Linked DNA regions of Homo sapiens. The protein of the gene in region 2 purifies or fractionates together with the protein of the main gene of each other region. This does not show direct contact. Each region holds a gene or a part of one and is shown on either strand. Other genes may lie near its edges.

The links.
Region 1: the proteins of SLC22A4 (region 2) and SCFD1 purify together in Homo sapiens (affinity purification with mass spectrometry; one large-scale study listed by BioGRID and IntAct). This does not show direct contact.
Region 3: the proteins of SLC22A4 (region 2) and LSS purify together in Homo sapiens (affinity purification with mass spectrometry; one large-scale study listed by BioGRID and IntAct). This does not show direct contact.

Annotation. Positions count from the first base shown.
Region 1 is NC_000014.9:30,628,679-30,632,340, forward strand, and holds part of SCFD1 (sec1 family domain-containing protein 1), read left to right. Parts: intron 1-1,798; coding exon 1,799-1,887; intron 1,888-3,662. UniProt on the Homo sapiens protein: Plays a role in SNARE-pin assembly and Golgi-to-ER retrograde transport via its interaction with COG4. Involved in vesicular transport between the endoplasmic reticulum and the Golgi.
Region 2 is NC_000005.10:132,339,385-132,342,194, reverse strand, and holds part of SLC22A4 (solute carrier family 22 member 4), read right to left. Parts: intron 1,631-2,810; coding exon 1,495-1,630; intron 1-1,494.
Region 3 is NC_000021.9:46,190,746-46,194,407, reverse strand, and holds part of LSS (lanosterol synthase), read left to right. Parts: intron 1-248; exon of another isoform or gene 249-318; intron 319-2,448; coding exon 2,449-2,527; intron 2,528-3,172; coding exon 3,173-3,304; 3' UTR 3,305-3,662. UniProt on the Homo sapiens protein: Key enzyme in the cholesterol biosynthesis pathway. Catalyzes the cyclization of (S)-2,3 oxidosqualene to lanosterol, a reaction that forms the sterol nucleus.

The DNA.
Region 1 (3,662 bases), on a different chromosome or scaffold from region 2:
TAATTTATGAGATATAAAACTTAATTGAACCAGAAAGCAATCTACAATCTTTTCCTTTGAGAAATACTGGAGAGCCTTTAAAAATTCCAATTCTTTAGGCTTCTTCATTTTAAACTTCATGCAGACTCTCTTTCTTCAGATGTTATAATACAGTTGATTGGGTTTAAACTTACTGGTTAACAGTCTCTTTATATTTCTCTCTTGCTAAAAATTAAGAACAAATCAACATGTTTAGAATTTAGGGTGTTTTGAAAACTCTCTTGAGTCTTTATAAGTCCTTTGGGTTAACTCTAAAAGTAGTTAAAGTTGTCTGTATTGATTTCATAGTTTAAGCTCCAGAGTATTCCCTAATTTTCTCCTTCTTGTTCCTTTGTGGGCATCTTCCTATTGCCTCTTGCATAAACTATACTTGCTTGTTTCTAAGACCAATATTGAGCTTTTGGTTGAAATAGTTTGAGAATTTCTTGGGTACAAATTTTTGTCAGATACTTTTCCTACCCATCACTTTTTATATCATTAAAATTAATAATACACATGTATTGAGATTAAAAGAGGGAAGATTTTTGAAAGATGCAACGTGAACCTTTTATAACTAGAGCAGAAAGATTTTTAGCCTCTTTAAAGGAAATCCTGGCATTTAAGAAAATGTGTTTTCATAACAACATGTTTCATTCTCTCATTAACAATTTCTTACTCCATAAATAATTATTGAGGTAGTTGTGAAAAATGCTTACCAGTTGAGGATCTCTTTTATTTGTCTTAACCGTGAAACTAATTTTGAGTTAAAAAGCCCATTTGGAGTTCTTACCACACCTCAAAGCTGTCTGTTTTAATACTTTGAGAATGTGAGGAAGTGTATTTGATAGACTAAGTCTATCAAATACTCTTTAGGGACTTAATTTTTTTTTTTTTTTTTTTGAGATGGAATCTCGCTTTGTCGCCAGGCTGGAATGTAGTGGCGCAATCTCAGCTCACTGCAGCCTCCGCCTCCCAAGTTCAAGTGATTCTCCTTCCTCAGCCTTCAGAGTAGCTGGGATTACAGGCACGTGCCACCACACCCAGCTAATTTTTGTATTTTTAGTAGAGAAAGGGTTTCACCATGTTGGCCAGGATGGTCTCTATCTCTTGACCTAGTGATCCGCCCACCTCGGCCTCCAAAAGTGCTGAGATTACAGGCGTGAGCCACTGTGCCACAGCCAGGGACTTAATTTTTTTTAATGAGTATCTTTTTAACCTGAGATGCTTAAAATACTAAATTTTTTATTGTGGTCCTGGAACTTGTTATATATTAGTTTTGAAAATGGCTAATTTTTACATCTCTGTTTTTAGAAAAGATATATGTGAACTGGAAAAAAAATAAGGGTATGAACGTGAATTGGCTTTAAGTTCAAAGTTTATGATAGCTTAAGGATTTTATAGTCTCTATTTTTTTAAAACCTAGAAAAAAGAATTTTATAAGAAGAAATTGATATAATTATTTATTTTAGCCTGAGTAGTAATGCTTTAAGAACGTATTACTGCCTGGATGGACATTTGGGTAAATAATGATGGAAAATATTAAATTGAGGCAAGGATAACAATTCAGTATATATGATGTATTAAAATTTACTTCAACATTGTCTTAATATAGGTTCACTATTGGTTGTTCACTGATAATGATGGAAAATGTTAAATTGAGGCAAGGATAACAATTCAGTATATATGATGTATTAAAATAAAATTTACTTCAACATTGTCTTAATATAGGTTCACTATTGGTTGTTCACTGATAATGATGACACATGGTTTTTTTTAATAGGTACTCATTTATGACAGATTTGGCCAAGATATAATCTCTCCTCTGCTATCTGTGAAGGAGCTAAGAGACATGGGAATCACTCTGCATCTGTGAGTTTTTACATATTTCTAATAGTGGTATTCATTTAAAGAACATTTATAGAGAAAAATAGTGTTAGGTTACAGTATTTATGTAGTATTGAACATTTTTTCCCTGTATCTTCTTTATTCAACCCCTTATTTCTGGGATTTAAAAAAATCCTCAGTCTGAGGCTTTATAATTTCAGAATTTAAATTTTCTGCCTTGTGGCTTTTCCTTAGATTTGGTTTACCCTCTATGTAAAGGAAAAGAACTAGTAATCTTAAGGTCTCTTCCAGCTCTAAAAGTGTTTTGTTCCTTTAATTTAAATACACAGATTCTCCTTGACCTACAATGGGGTTACATACTTATAAACCCATCATAAGTTGAAATTTTGTAAGTCAAAAAAATGCATTTAATACACCTAACCTACCAAACATCATAGCTTAGCCTCTCCTACCCTCAGCATGCTCAGAATACTTACATTGGCCTACAGTTGGGCAGAGTCAGATCTAACACATAGCCTCCTTTATAATAAAACCGGGCACGGTGGCTCACGCCTGTAATCCCAGTACTTTGGGAGGCCAAGGCGGGCAAATCACAAGGTCAGGAGTTCGAGACCAGCCTGGTCACGTGGTGAAACGCCATCTTCACTAAAAAAAATACAGAAAATTAGCCAGGCATGGTGGCAGGCACCTGTAATCCCAGCTACTTGAGGCTGAGGCAGGAGAATCACTTGAACCCGGGAGGCAGAGGTTGCAGTGAGCCGAGACTGTGCCACTGCACTCCAGCCTGGGCAAAAGAGCAAGACTCTGTCTCAAAATTTAAAAAAAATTAATTAATTAAAATAAAAATAAACTGTTGAATATCTCACGTAATTTATTGACTGCAGTGCTGAAAGTTGAAAACAGAATGTTTTTATAGGTGCTTAAAATATGATTTCTATTGAATATGCACTGCTTTTGCACCATCATAAAGTCAAAAAATCCTAAGTTGAACCATTGTAAGTCAGGGAGTGTCTATATTTTTTTAAAAAAAAGGAATATCTAATTAATCATTAATATGAAAAATTTAAGTGACTATGAAGTAATGACTGTTAATCACCATAGTGGGCTATCTGTGTTGTCTTAACTGTTAAGTTTGTGTGATTATATTGCTTCTGATATGTTTAATAAAAATAAAACAAATGCAGTACTTTATGGGCTTGCCTAGTAGAACATTTGGAGAAGGGGCCAGGCACAGTGGCTCATGCCAGTAATCCTAGCACTTCTGGAGGCCCGGGTGGGCGGATCACTTGAGGTCAGGAGTTCGAGACCAGCCTGGCCAACATGGTGAAACCCCGTCTCTACTAAAAGTACAAAAATTAGCTGGGCATGGTGGCGTACCCACCTGTAATCCTAGCTACTTGGGAGGCTGAGGAAGGACAATTGCTTGAACCCAGGAGGCAGAGGTTGTAGTGAACCGAGATCGTGACACTACACTCTGGCCTGGGCAGCAGAGCAAGATTCTGTTGAAAAAAAAAAAAAAAAAAAAAAAAAGAACGTTTGGAGAAGGACTGTGTTCATGGATAGATACTAATACTTCTGTATACTAAAAGAGTCCAATTTTATGGTGTTCTAAGCTATTTGCATTTTGTTCTATTTATGATGTTATAACCAATTTTTATGATATCATATATTGAATTGAAATGTACTCTTACTGGGAATATAGTTTTAGATTTTCGATAAGTAACTTGACAGAATCTGGTTTAATCAGCTCAAATTCTTCAGTTGTATAATGAGCATTTGTTAATAGACTGTTATAGTTT
Region 2 (2,810 bases):
ATTTTCTCCTGGCTTATTGACTTTTGTCTTTGTGGGTGGTTTCTTTTTGCCTTGCCAATAATTTAAAAAATGTACAATCAGATATATCAATCTGTTCCTTTATGGTTCTTTGATTTTATGTTATGCTCAGTAAGATCTTCTCTAAGGTTATAAAAATGTTTGTTTCCTCCTGGTATATTTATGATTTTACATTTTTAGGCCTAAATTTTTTAACTGTCTGGATTTTATCTTGATGTGTTTTTTTTTTGGAGACGGAGTCTCGCTCTGTCACGCAGACTGGAGTGTAGTGGCGCGATTTCGGCTCACTGCAACATCCACCACCCTGGTTCAAGCGATTCTCCTGCCTCAGCCTCCCGCGAGCTGGGATTACAGGGGTGCGCCACCATGCCTGGCTAATTTTTGTATTTTTAGTAGAGATGGGGTTTCACCATGTTGGACAGACTGTTCTCGAACTCCTGACCTCAAGCAATCTGCCTGCCTCAATCTCCCTAAGTGCTGGGATTACAGGTGTGAGCCACCATGCCCAGCCAATGCATTTTTTAAAGAGACAACTTTTTAATTTATTCAAAATGTCTAGCTGAATGTTCTAATACCTTTTACTGAATAACTATTCCCCCTTGACTTTGCTACTTTTTATTACATACTGAATTTTTATATTTTCTTGGGTTTTATCCTGAACTCTATCCTATTCCATTGGTTTCTATTCCTATACCATTATCACATTGTTTTAATTACTATTGCTCAACAATATGCTTTATTACTATTATTATTATTTTTGAGACAGAGTCTAGCTCTGTTGCCCAGTCTGGAGTGCGGTGGCATGATGTTGGCTCACTGCAACCTCCACCTCCCGGGTTCAAGCAATTCTCCTACCTCAGCCTCCTGAGTAGCTGGGACTACAGGTGTGTGCCACCATGCCCAGCTAATTTTTGTATTTTTAGTAGAGACAGGGTTTCACCATGTTGGCCAGGATGGTCTCGATCTCTTGACCTCATGATCCGCCTGCCTCAGCCTCCCAAAGTGTTGGGATTACAGGCATGTGCCACCGCGCCTGGCCTATTATTTATTTATTTTTTTTGAGACGGAGTTTTGCTCTTGTTGCCCAGGCTGGAGTGCAGTGGTGTGATCTCAGCTCACTGCAACCTCTGCCTCCTGGGTCAAGCAGTTCTCCTGCCTCAGCCTCCTGAGTAGCTGGGATTACATGTGACTGCCACCACACCCAGCTAATTTTTTGTATTTTTAGTAAAGATGAGGTTTCACTATGTTGGCCAGGCTGGTCTCAAATTCCTGACCTCAGGTGATCCACCTGCCTCAGCCTCCCAAAGTGCTGGGATTACAGGCGTGAGCCACTGTGCCCAGCCAACAATATGCTTTATTATCTGATAGAGCTAGTCTCTACTTATTACTCTTCTATTTCAGAACCTTCCTAGCTATTCTTCCATGCTTATTCTCCCTAAGGCATTTTGGTATCATTTTGTTAAAAGTCCTACTTACCATTTCACTTTCTGCATCTGCTCTAAGGTTTCTGGAAGAGTCATTCCCAAACTTTCAGGGAAAAAAAGGGTGAGGATTCCAATCAGGACAGTCAGACTACCCATGACGATGTAGGGCAGCATTCTGTTGTAAGCACCTGTAAAGCCCGGGACATAAGAACATCAATCAGATAGGAGGACTCTCTGGGCACTCTTGAGCATCATTTTGTGAAGTTGGTGAACAGTATAAGAGAATGGATTTAAATCTGAACATTTTCAGAGAAAAAAAAGTAAGCAAAATATCAGTTTCTTTTTGGCAGATGACATTGTGCATGTCTATAATCCTTTTGCATTATCATAAGGCTTTTCATTCTTTCCTGTCAACTGGTATCCTCTAAGCTACTACTCAGTCATGTGTGACAGATGTTCCTTTGGTAGAGTTCTTTGCCTACCAGAGTTCTCCTCTTAAGGTGGAGGTAATTGGAAATGGGGGATGGGAGGACATCAAGGAGAAGGAGGTTAACCAGGATGTTTCAGGGATAGGTTTTGGCTATGATAGGTCTGGCATGACTCTGCTTTTGCCCAAACTAGTAGGCTGCAGTGGAAAGTTAGGTCCACAGGGCTATGAGACTCAAAAAAAAAAAAAAAAAAAAAAAAAACAACTAAGTATTATGTTCACTTCAGATTAAATCAGTAAATTATAAGTATCAGGCACATTCTGTAAAGGCACTGTGTGCCTGGATTTGGCTTCTTTTTGGAGCACTTACATGTCTTGGGTTAATATGTAATCTCTTTGTGAAGCTTTACTCACACAGGAGAAAAACAGATCCTCATCTTGCTTTGCCCCTGTATACATACAGAGCTTACAGAGGAACAGCACACCCATGGATTTCATTTGACCCAAAACATAAGGAAAATATTGTTATTGCAGCTTCTCTGAGGCCTCTGTGTCACTAACAGGAGTAGCTGTGTGGAGTAGGAGACTCTTGGACTCCCTGTCTTATGTACCAGTGTCTGACCACTGGACCATCTGAGCATAGTTTGAAATAGTTTGAAAGTACAGGGAAGGACAAAGGGAAAAATAACACCACTCTGTATAATCTGCTATCTCAGGTGTGGCACAGGGCAACTGTGCAGAATATGTTTGTTAGGAAAATGTTTCTCTTTCTCTGTAAGGGTTTGGATTATACCTTTCCTGAGAATTCATACATGTTTTCAGGTGTGTGTGTGTGTGTGTGTGTGTGTGTACGTGTGTACCAGTAGGTAACCAATTGCCCAATTGATGAGGTGTGTCTGCATTTCTCACCAGTAGAGTCCTTAATGAGGACCAGGCATGGG
Region 3 (3,662 bases), on a different chromosome or scaffold from region 2:
GAATGTAGAGAGGAGGGGAGGCCTGTGGGCCAGGTCAGCTGCCACTCTGGGAACAGACACCTACAAGAGCCACATGCCTGGTTCCTGGGGCAAGAACGTGGGCTGCTCTGACCAAGTGGGGCCCTGCAGAGAGGCTCGCCTCTTAGAAGTGAACCACCCACCATTAGCCATGTCAGTGGAAGAGCAAGCACATCAGGGACCCATGGAAACAGCGAGGTGGGCTGCGATGAGGATGCTGCTTCCTGGTGTGGTAGTGATGACGGTCACAGCAGCTGCTCTCTGTGGCCCTACTGTGTTCACAGCTGGTGCTGAGCCACATATGTGCCAGGTGCACACACACGCAGACGCATGCAGGCAGGCATCAGTGTACACACTGATGTGCACACACAGATGTACATGGAGACAGATGCACACACAGGCCTATGCACACACGTACGCATGCCCACACAGGCACCTGTGTCCACACACATACAGATGCACCCACAGCATCCCATCTGTGCCACACACTGACATAGGTACATGGAGACAGATGCACACACAGGTCTGTGCACACACGTATGCATGCACAGGCACCTGTGTACACACACGTACAGATGCACCCACAGGATCCCATCTGTGCCACACACAGACGTAGGTACATGGAGACAGATGCACACACAGGTCTGTGCACACACATACATACGCATGCACAGGCACCTGTGTACACACATGCAGATACACCCACAGCATCCCATCTGTGCCACACACAGACATAGGTACATGGAGACAGATGCACACACAGGTCTATGCACACACATACGCATGCACAGGCACCTGTGTACACACACGTACAGATGCACCCACAGGATCCCATCTGTGCCACACACAGACGTAGGTACATGGAGACAGATGCACACACAGGTCTGTGCACACACATACATACGCATGCACAGGCACCTGTGTACACACACGCAGATACACCCACAGCATACCATCTGTGACACACACAGACGTAGGTACATGGAGACAGATGCACACACATGTCTGTGCACACACATACATACGCATGCACAGGCACGTGTGTACACACATGCAGATACACCCACAGCATGCCATCTGTGACACACACAGACGTAGGTACATGGAGACACATGCACACACAGGTCTGTGCACACACATACGCATGCACAGGCACCTATGTACACACATGCAGATACACCCACAGCATCCCATCTGTGCCACACACAGACATAGGTACATGAAGACAGATGCACACACAGGTCTATGCACACACGTATGCATGCACAGGCACCTGTGTACACACATGCAGATGCACCCACAGTATCCCATCTGTGCCACACACAGACATACGTACATGGAGACAGATGCACATACAGGTCTATGCACACATGTACACATGCACAGGCACCTGTGTACACACATGCAGATGCACCCGCAGTATCCCATCTGTGCCATACACAGACATACGTACATGGAGACAGATGCACATACAGGTCTATGCACACATGTACACATGCACAGGCACCTGTGCACACATATGCAGATGCACCCGCAGTATCCCATCTGTGCCACACACAGACATACGTACATGGAGACAGATGTACACACAGGTCTATGCACACATGTACACATGCACAGGCACCTGTGTACACACATGCAGATGCACCCGCAGTATCCCATCTGTGCCACACACAGACATACGTACATGGAGACAGATGCACACACAGGTCTATGCACACATGTACACATGCACAGGCACCTGTGCACACATATGCAGATGCACCCGCAGTATCGCATCTGTGCCACACAGACATACGTACATGGAGACAGATGTACATACAGGTCTATGCACACATGTACACATGCACAGGCACCTGTGCACACATACATACAGATGCACCCGCAACATCCCGTCTGTGCTGCCCTATTAGGTTTGTGGCCATTTGGGGAATCTTCCTAAAACCCTAAAAGCTAGGGCAGGTCTGCTTGAGCAGGAGCAGCAGGGTCTGGGGGACCCCTGAGGGCAGGACAGTCAGGGACCCACAGTTGAGCTGGGCCCGCTGAGCCCTGGATCCTTCTTGGTGTCTTATCCTGGCCAGCAAGCAAGTGTGAGCTCCTGTGGGTCTCCAGAGGCCCATGAGGACCAGTGGGCCAGTTGGGAACAAGGCTTGGCGTCCTCTTCAGGGGGGAACACCAGGGCAGGCCTGAGGAGGCCTGTGTCCCCAGCCTGTCATTGCTGTGGCTCCGCTTCTCAGGGAGCCTAGGAAGAAGGTGTGGCAAGAGCCCGAGGCGCTGGCTGCACCTGGCGGGGCCTGTGGGCGTCAGTTTAGACCCATCCATTCTCACTGCAGCATTCCAGGGTTTGCCCTTATGCTCGGCTGTGTGAGGGTGAGGATGATGCTGTGGGGGCATGCATGCTGGGTGTGTTTCAGCCTTCTCTTCCACCAGGCATCCTGACATCGAGGCCCAGGAGAGAGGAGTCCGGTGTCTACTTGAGAAACAGCTCCCCAATGGCGACTGGCCGCAGGTATGCCGCCAGGGACCTGAGCGCACAAGGCCCAGCACTGACCTCCAGCGTGCATGGCTGTTTCCACGTCCCCCTGCTCTGTGTCCTTTTTGGGGTACTTTGGACACTTGGGAGGCGTCACCTCTGCCAGTGAATGCCACAGTTGGTGGCAGGTCTGTGGCAGGTGGTCGGGTCCTAAAGTCCAGATCTTGCTGTTGTTTCAAGTGATGCTCTGGGTGGGGGAGGAGCTGGATGGGAGAAGCCAGTGGGCGGGAAGCCTTTTTGCTGCAGGACAGACCCTCCCACTCCAGATGACCTAGTGGCCCCTCACTGAGCCAGAAGTCCCTGTGGTGTGGGTGTCATGAGGTCATGTGAGGCCAACCGCCCTCCCCTGGGATGAGGCTGAGTTGGTGGAAGCTGATGTGGTTGTGAGGGGCTGGTGACCCTGGCTTAGGGTTTGCTGCAGGGCGGGGAGTCTGAGCTGGGCTGATGGTGCCATGACTGATGCGGGATGGACTACTTGCTTTCCTATGCTCTTGCTTAATTAGCCCTTTCCAGGCTGACTCACCCACAAGCCAGCCAAGCCAACAGCCAGGGCTCCAGTTCAGGGACTAGCCCTCAGCTGACTGGTGAAGCCTTTGTGTTTATTTCTCTGTGTTCTTTTAGGAAAACATTGCTGGGGTCTTCAACAAGTCCTGTGCCATCTCCTACACGAGCTACAGGAACATCTTCCCCATCTGGGCCCTCGGCCGCTTCTCCCAGCTGTACCCTGAGAGAGCCCTTGCTGGCCACCCCTGAGAACATGCCTACCTGCTGGGTGCCGTCTGTGCGTTCCAGTGAGGCCAAGGGGTCCTGGCCGGGTTGGGGAGCCCTCCCATAACCCTGTCTTGGGCTCCAACCCCTCAACCTCTATCTCATAGATGTGAATCTGGGGGCCAGGCTGGAGGCAGGGATGGGGACAGGGTGGGTGGCTTAGACTCTTGATTTTTACTGTAGGTTCATTTCTGAAAGTAGCTTGTCGGGCTTGGGTGAGGAAGGGGGCACAGGAGCCGTGACCCCTGAGGAGGCACAGCGCCTTCTGCCACCTCTGGGCACGGCCTCAAGGTAGTGAGGCTAGGAGGTTTTTTCTGACCAATAGCTGAGTTCTTGGGAGAGG